Regions from separate parts of the Homo sapiens genome. Here all the other regions are linked to region 1. The links come from fine-mapping of genetic effects on gene expression. A gene starts in region 1. Each other region holds a variant in brackets. All regions are shown on one strand. Distances are between the middles of the regions.

Region 1 (2,500 bases):
GCAGAAGAGAGTGCATGGGCAGCAGCTTGAGTGGTTCGGAGGCAGTGAGGAATGCCATTCTATTACCGTTAAGTCCTAAAGGCAAAATGACAGGATTTTTAAGGAACTGAGGTTCCTTTTGATACGCAGACCATAAAGCTTCACAATTTTAATTGGAGACTGGCGCCCAATTCTAGAGTCTCTTTAAAAAATGTACTTACCCAATGCAAAGGTTTTAAGGGCACCGAGGGGGAAGGATAGTTGGGGTACAGCAAGGAAGTAAAAGAGGAATGACCCGGGGTGCAGTGGCTCACGCCTGTATTCCCCACATTTTGGGAGGCCAGGAGTTCGAGGCTAGGCTTGGCAACATAGAAAGGCTCCATCTCTACAAAAAAAATTAAAAATTAGCCAGGCATGGTGGTGTGCACCTCTAGGCCCAGCTACTCGGGAGGCTGAGGTGGAAGGATCGCTTGGGCCCGGGGGGTTGAGGCTGCAGTGAGCTATGATCACGCCACTGCACTCCAACCTGGGCAGCAGAACAAAGACCCTGTGTCTACAATAAAAAAGGAAAAAAGTCTCGCACAGAGGAAGAGAAGATTAAGGGGAGAAGGTGGGAGTAAGCAGAGGTGGGAAACCAGTTTATCTCTCCCCGCCAAATGCTGCAGCCAGTTCCCTCCAAAAGTGTTAAGGGGCTCCCTTTCCAGATATCAATGTTTTGGAGGAAACGAAAAGCCCCAACTTCAAATCGCCGCCATTCGCAGGCAAAAAAAGGGGCAGTAAGCAGAGGACAGGAAATTGAGGCCTTTCGCTGACGCAGACAAGCCAAGACGTTACGTCACGTCCGCCCAAAACAAACCAGCCCGGCAATTTCTAGATACCGGGCGGACCCGCCTTCAAAATTAGCAACTGAGCATGCACTAACGTCAATACGGAGGGAACGTGATTACATCAGTGTCAGGCGCCGGCGTAATTAAATATAACTGAGTTTACGCAGACGCAGAAAACGCAGGCAAACCTGAGGTCCTCAGAATGGCGGGCACAGGTTTGGTGGCTGGAGAGGTTGTGGTGGATGCGCTGCCGTATTTTGATCAAGGTTATGAAGCCCCTGGTGTGCGGGAAGCGGTGAGTGCGGGGTGTCTTTGTAGCTGACTCACTGCTAGCTGGCTCGGTACTGAAAGAAACATGTTACAATTTGCCACTTCTACCCTGGTCCCTATTCTCTTTCTTAGGCTGCAGCGCTGGTGGAGGAGGAAACTCGCAGATACCGACCTACTAAGAACTACCTGAGCTACCTGACAGCCCCGGATTATTCTGCCTTTGAAGTAAGTATGTCTTGAGCCTAGGTGTGAACGAGAATTCCTGTGAACCTTTATTTTGGATTGAGAGCTTTAAATTCCAGTTTTAACCATTGCCTGCATAGCTACTACTTACCTACTGTATAGGTGTCAGTCTATTGAAAACAACTAGATAGATAAGTCTTCTCCGAGGTTCTTATTCTAAGATCCATAGGAAGACTTTCTGGGGCTCCACAACTCACTTAATGCAAAAATTTGTGGCTACCATTCTTTGAGATAGGATCCATGCGTAAATTCTCAAAGGGACCCTCTCCTGCCAAGATTCACTCTACAGCAAGTGATCTAGGGTTTTTTAATATGTATAAGCCTAATTACCTAAGCTCTTTAGAACCACTGGAGAGTGGCATATTAAAGTCTAGTTATTTACCAAATGTATGTGATACGACTGAAAGGACAAACCATATCCAAGTGTATACTACTTTTTTCTCAGCCTTCTCCTTTTTTCTGTAATCTATCCGATGTTTTTATTAACACATTTCTGATTAATGTAGGCAATAATTTTCACTGATATGAATACTTTACAAGTGCTAGGTGCCATTCTAGATTCTGAGATCATAGAGATATATGGGGTTTCTTTTTTAATATATTTTGTTTTCTTTTAATTTTTCTTTTCTTTATTTAAGACAAACATCCTCTCCAAAAAAGATAGGGTTTCTGAATACAGAAAAATACAATACAGTGAGGAGCTAGATATATAAAACAAAAAGTTTACAATAGTATGTATAAATGTGTAATAATATGTAAAGGACCTATAGCGGAGGGTATGTATAAGGACAAGAGGATTAGAGAAGGGAGTGTCCATGATTGCCTAAGGAGTCAGATGCTGTTCTACTCCACACATTGAGTATGATACTATTTTAAATGTATAACCTTGAAGTACACCCAGGATTCTAGTTAGGGTCTAGTTAGCTAAATGAAATGTAAGATATCATTTCTAAATTATTGGATTCAAGTATTTCAGTATGTACAGCTTGGAGGATTTTTTCCCATTATACCTAATCGTTTATTTATGAAAGGATTGTATTATTAAAAGGCAGTATTTAGCTGGGTGTGGTGGCTCACACCTGTAATCCCAGCACTTTAGGAGGCTGAGGTGTGAGGATCACTTGAGACCAGCCTGGGCAACATAGTGAGACCCTTTCTCTACAAAAGAAAAATTAAAAAGT
Region 2 (2,852 bases), 33 kb after region 1:
TGAGCTCAAAGTGATTGGCCAGCCTTGGCCTTTCAAAGTGCTAGGATTACAGGTGAGCCACCATGCCCAGGCCATCATTACTTTTTTACATCTATACAGACTGGTATCAGAAGTGAAATTGGCTCAAAGTCCTAGCTCCTAAAGTAATTTGGGGGAATTTTTATGAAATGCAAGCAGAGATAAATGCTGCAAGATTTCTAGGATGGTTCTCAGATCATCCTTAGAGCAGGAACCCCAAAATGTTGTGACTTTTTATAGTAGAGAGGTATCAATTCACTGTCCACTCACATCTTGACTTCAAGTGGTTTGGCACAGTAAATTGAAAACATATAAACATTTGATGAGGCCAAAAACATAATCTATGGGTGCTTCTATCAGTTTTTGCTAGAGTAGCCCAGGTTCCTGGGGTTTTCTTCAGGTTCCCAAGGTTTTCTAAACAAGTTAACTAAGCTTATAAGAGAAGGAAATTATTAGCTGGGAGTGGTGGCACCTGCCTGTAATCCCAGTTACTTGGGAGACTGAGGCAGGAGAATTGCTTGAGTCCAGGAGGTGGAGGTTGCAGTGAGCCAAGATCACGCCATTGCACTCCTGGGCAACAGAGCAAGCCTGGGCAACAGAGCAAGACTCCATCTCAAAAAAAAAAAAAGAACGAAATTTAAACCAGTAGACACTGATATCTGGGATAAAAATACCTGAGTTAAAAAACTAGTGATTTGAAGAAAGACTGAGGACTCATTCAAGCCACAACTAACACTAGATTGAGCAACTTCTCAAGCAGAAACTGGGTAACCGCTGAGGCTGTGGAATTGAGAGGGGATGAGAGTGGTGCCAAAGTACGCTGACTCTCACTGGCCCCACCTTTCCTGGCAGTACCGAGAAAACCAAGGAGGAAGGGAGGTGAGCAAGTCATAGCTAAGGGGAAAATATTAAGTTAGAACAGCAATAGGACATTTTGGGGACACACTTGGGTATTACAGATTTACATAATATTGCATCAATTTTTTATTTCATGGGTAAGATAAAGGTATTGTGGTCTTCAAAGATACGTGCTGGAGTGTTTTAAGGATGAAGCGTTATGATGTTTAGGACTTACTTTCAATGGTTTCAGCAAGAAAAAAAGACATGCATAAATAGGAAGATAGATAATAGATGATAAGCATATATATATATATAACACAAATATAGCACAATACTAGCAACTGGATAAATCCAAGTGAAAAGTATGTGGGTGTTTATTATACTATCCTTTCATCTTTTCTGTAGGTTTAAAATTGTTCAAAATTAAAGTTTTTTTAAAATAATTTAAACTGCTGTGAATAGCTTTGTTTCAATATGTGTGAACTACTTTTGCTACTCTCAGAGACAAGGCTGAAATACATTATGACCTTGGAGCTCTGTCGTTTGTGAAAACTAACTGAAATTAAAAAAAAAAAAAAAATATATATATATATATATATATATATAGTAGAGGCTGGATGCAGTGGCTCATGCCTATAATCCCAGCACTTTGGGAGGCCAAGGCAGCACAATCACTTGAGCTCAGGAGTTCAAGAACAGCCTGACTAACATGGTGAAACCCCATCTCTACTAAAAATACAAAAATTAGCCAGGCCTGCTGGTGCTCACCTGTAGTCCCAGCTACTCAGGAGGCTGAGGCAGGAGAATCACTTGAACCTAGGA[A/G]GTGGAAGTTGCAGTGAGCTGAGATTGCGCCATCGCACAATTTGCATCGCACAATTTGCACAATCGCCATCGCACAAGTTGCAGTGAGCTGAGATTGCGCCAGCCTGGCCGACAAAGCGAGACTCTGTCTCCAAAAATAAAAAATAAAAAAATGGTGGAAAACTTCAAGCTAAAGAAAGTGAAGTGAATGTTTACATTTATTTCTACTACCTCCCAAAATCACACTACAACATTTAGTAAAAGTTTTTTGTTCTTTGTTTTGTTTCAAGGCATAAATCCACAAAGACAAAGAAAATGAGAGATGAGACAACAGCAAGAAATTGGAGAAGATGGAATGCAAATGGAAGAGGGGTAACTGATTCAACAGATGCAAAGAAGCTAAACCTTAAACCAACAGTGAGAAAGCAAAATATGAAAGTTAAAAAGCAGTTTTGTTTATCCACACAACCTTCTGGACCCAGGATTTGGTAGCACCAGTGACCTCTGGGAGTGGGGGTGACTGTGAGGTAAAAAGTGAAATTGGGCCAGGTGCGGTGGCTCACGCCTGTAATCCTAGCACTTTGGGAGGCCAACATAGGCTGATCATTTGAGGTCAGGAGTTCGAGACCAACCTGGCCAACATGGCAAAGCCCTGTCTCTACTAAAAATACAAAAATTAGCGTGCTTCTGTAGTCCCAGCTACTCTGGAGGTTGAGGCAGGAGAATTCAAGCAATTCTCCTGCCTCAACTCCCAAGTAGCAAAGGCGGAGGCTGCAGTGAGCCGAGATCGTGCCACTGCATTCCAGCCTGAGTGACAGAGTGAGACTCTGTCTCAAAATAAATAAATAAATAAATAAATAAATAAATAAATAAATAAATAAAATAAACACAGATATAATAATATTATTTAAATGTACAGTCTCAATGTCCCCCAGATGTCTTTATGGCTCTTCGAATTTAACTTTAAGAAGGAGTTAGACCCTGTTCTACCTTAACTTTAAAGAAGCAGTGAAAGGCTCAAATCCCCATCTTCAATACAAGCTGGCTGGGCAGACAGAAGGCAGAAAGCATGTTTTCCAAAAAGGGGGAAAATAGAGAATTGCTTGACTGGGAACACCTAGTACTGTCAAGGGCAAGGATTCAATCTTGAAAGAAGAAAGATTAAGTGAGAGCTTATATACTTAGGAAGAATC
Region 3 (2,852 bases), 29 kb after region 1:
GCCTAGACAGGGTTTTGCCATGTGGGCCAAGCTGGTCTCGAACTCCTGACCTCAAGTGATCTGCCTGCCTCAGCCACCCAAAGTGCTGGGATTACATGTGTGAGCCACTGCGCCCAGCCTGTTACCTAAAATTAAAATCTAAACTTCTTACCATGGCATACAAAGTTTTTAAGAGAAAGGCAGATAGTGGCCAGACATGGTGGCTCACACCTGTAATCCCAACACTTTGAGAGGCCAAGGCAGGAGGATCACTTATGCCCAGAAGTTTGAGACCAGCCTGGGCAATATAGTGAGACCCTGTCTCTATTTAAAAAAAATTAAATAAATAAAAGAAAGGCAGATAGTGAACCTAGCAGTGAAGTCAAACTGCCAGGAGTCAAACTGTCATTTAATAGCTATGTGATATCAGACAAGTTTATTTACTTCTCTGTGTCTGTTTTCCAGGTGGAAAATTAGCACAATAATTCTACTGTATCTGATAGGGTTGTTGTAAGAATTACATAAATTATTACACATTAAATGCATAGAACAGTGCCTGGCACATGTTAGATGCTGCTATTATTTCCAAATCTTGTAAATCTCGTCTGCCTGAACCCCTTCCTCAAACCATATTTAAATTTTCAGCCAGACGTGCTCATGCCTGTAATCTCAGGCATTAGAGATTTACACACCTGTAATCTCAACACTTTGGGAGGCCAAGGCAGGCAGATCACTTGAGGTCAGGAGTTTAAAGCTAGCCTGGGCAACGTAGCAAGATCCCGTCTCTACAAAAAAATAAAGTTATCTGGATGTGGGCACGTGCCTGTAGTCCCAGCTACTCAGGAGGCTGAGGCAGGAGGCCAGCTTCAGCCCAGGAGATCAAGGCTGCAGCGAGCTATGATCATGCCACTGCACTCCAGCATGGGCAACAGAGCAAGAATCCACATCTAAAAAAAGAAAAAGAAAAGAAAAAATTTCCTGTTTCTCTACACCCACCATGATGCATCCTTCCATTTTTTACCCATTTTCATGTGCTTTTTTCTTTCCTTGGAATACCTTCCCCACTTTGTTTCTTGATGAATTTATGTTTATCCTTCAAGGAAGAGGTTAAGGATAGTAGGCTCTCTGCAGTCTTCTCCATGATGCAGAGGTATATTCATCTTTATACAAATTTTTTAAGTTGCAGACATTTATCTCAAAATAGAGTAGGCTGGGCATAGTTGCTCACACCTGTAATCACAATACTATGGGAGGCCAAGGCAGGTGGATTGCTTGAGTCCAGGAGTTCAAGAACAGCCTGGGCAACATGGCGAGATCCTGTCTCTACAAAAAATAGAAATATTAGCCAGGCCTGGTGGCATGTGCCGGTAGTCTCACTTACTTGGGAAGCTGAGCTAGGAGGATCACTTAAGCCTGGCAGGTTGGGGCTGCAGTGAGCTGTGAGTGTGCCGCTGTACTGCAGAGACCCTCTCTCAAAAAAAAAAAAAAAAAAAAAAAAAGAGTAACTATTACCAAAAAAAAAAAAAAAA[G/AG]GATGAAGTTGAGATATATGCTGGTAACAGAAAGATATTTGTGGTAGGCAGTTTCTACAGTGGCTCCCAATTCCTGCCTCCGATATTAACACCGTTGTATCATCTTTTGTGTGTGTGGGCTGGACCTAGTGACTTGCGTCTAACAAGTAGAATATGGCAAAAGTGATAGAGAGTCACTTCTGAGATTAGATGATAAGAGACTGACTTTCACTCTACTCTCACTCTCTGACTCTTGTGTTCCTTCTGATGAAGCAAGCTGCCATGTTGTGAACTGCCCTATGGAGAAGTCCATGTGGCAAGGAACTGAGGGTGGCCTCCAGCAGACAGCCAGAGCAAAACTGCACTCCGTGGTCCAATGGCCTGGGAGAAGGTGAATTCTGCCAACAACATGAGCAAGCCTGAGTCTACTGCAGTCCCAGGCGACACTTTTTCTTTTCCTTTCCTTTTCTTTTCTTTTCTTTTTTTTTTTTTTTTTTTTGAGACAGTTTCACTCTGTCACCCAGGCTGGAGTAAAGTGGCACAATCTCTGCTCACTGCAATGTACGCCTCCTGGGTTTCAAGCGATTCTCCTGCCTCAGCCTCCTGAATAGCTGGGATTACAGGCACCTGCCACCATGCCTGGCTAATTTTTATTTTTATTTTATTTATTTATTTTTTTTGAGACTGAGTCCCGCTCTGTCGCCCAGGCTGGAGTGCAGTGGTGCGATCTCAGCTCACTGCAACCTCCACCTCCCAGGTTCAAGTGATTCTCATGCCTCAGCCTCCCGAGTAGCTGGGATTCCAGGTGTATGCCACCACGTCCTGCTAATATTTGTATTTTTAGTAGAGACGGGGTTTCACCATGTTGGCCAGGCTGATCTCAAACTCCTGACCTCAAGTGATCCACCCACCTCAGCCTCCCAAAGTGCTGAGATTACAGGCATAAGCTACCGTGCCTGGCCTAATTTTTGTATTTTTAGTAGAGACAGGGTTTCTCCATGTTGGCCAGGGTGGTCTCGAAATCCTGGCCTCAAGTGATCTGCCCACCTCAGCCTCCCCAAAGTGTTGGAATTACAGGCGTGAGCCACCGGCCTGTTTTTTTTTTTTTTGAGCTGGGCTTTCACTCTATCACCCAAGCTGGAATGCAGTGGTGTGATCATAGTTCACTGCAGCCTTAAATTCCTGGGCTCAAGCAATCCTCCTGCTGGGCAACATTTTGACTTGCAGCCTTTTGAGAGATCCTGAAACAGGAGCCCCAACAAAGCCACATCCAGATTCCTGATCCATAGAAACTGTGAGATAATAAATGTTGTTTTAAGCCACCAAGGTTTGGAGCAATTTGTTATGCAGCATTAGATAACAAAT

The links.
Region 2: its variant is fine-mapped to the expression of BCAS2 in whole blood (INTERVAL, PIP above 0.99).
Region 3: its variant is fine-mapped to the expression of BCAS2 in whole blood (INTERVAL, PIP 0.95).

Annotation. Positions count from the first base shown.
Region 1 is chr1:114,580,100-114,582,599 of GRCh38, reverse strand. BCAS2 (BCAS2 pre-mRNA processing factor) reads left to right here and starts at 985. Exons shown (of 7, transcript NM_005872.3): 1 at 985-1,101; 2 at 1,209-1,301. The coding sequence starts at 1,009. It overlaps LOC105378914 (a long non-coding RNA gene), which reads right to left and starts at 757. Exons shown (of 3, transcript XR_947719.4): 1 at 201-757; 2 at 1-75.
Region 2 is chr1:114,547,295-114,550,146 of GRCh38, reverse strand. No RefSeq gene overlaps it. Among named protein-coding and RNA genes, the nearest start is that of BCAS2, 33 kb to the left of the region's middle. The variant A/G (reference allele first, on the strand shown) is at 1,681.
Region 3 is chr1:114,551,373-114,554,224 of GRCh38, reverse strand. No RefSeq gene overlaps it. Among named protein-coding and RNA genes, the nearest start is that of BCAS2, 29 kb to the left of the region's middle. The variant G/AG (reference allele first, on the strand shown) is at 1,509.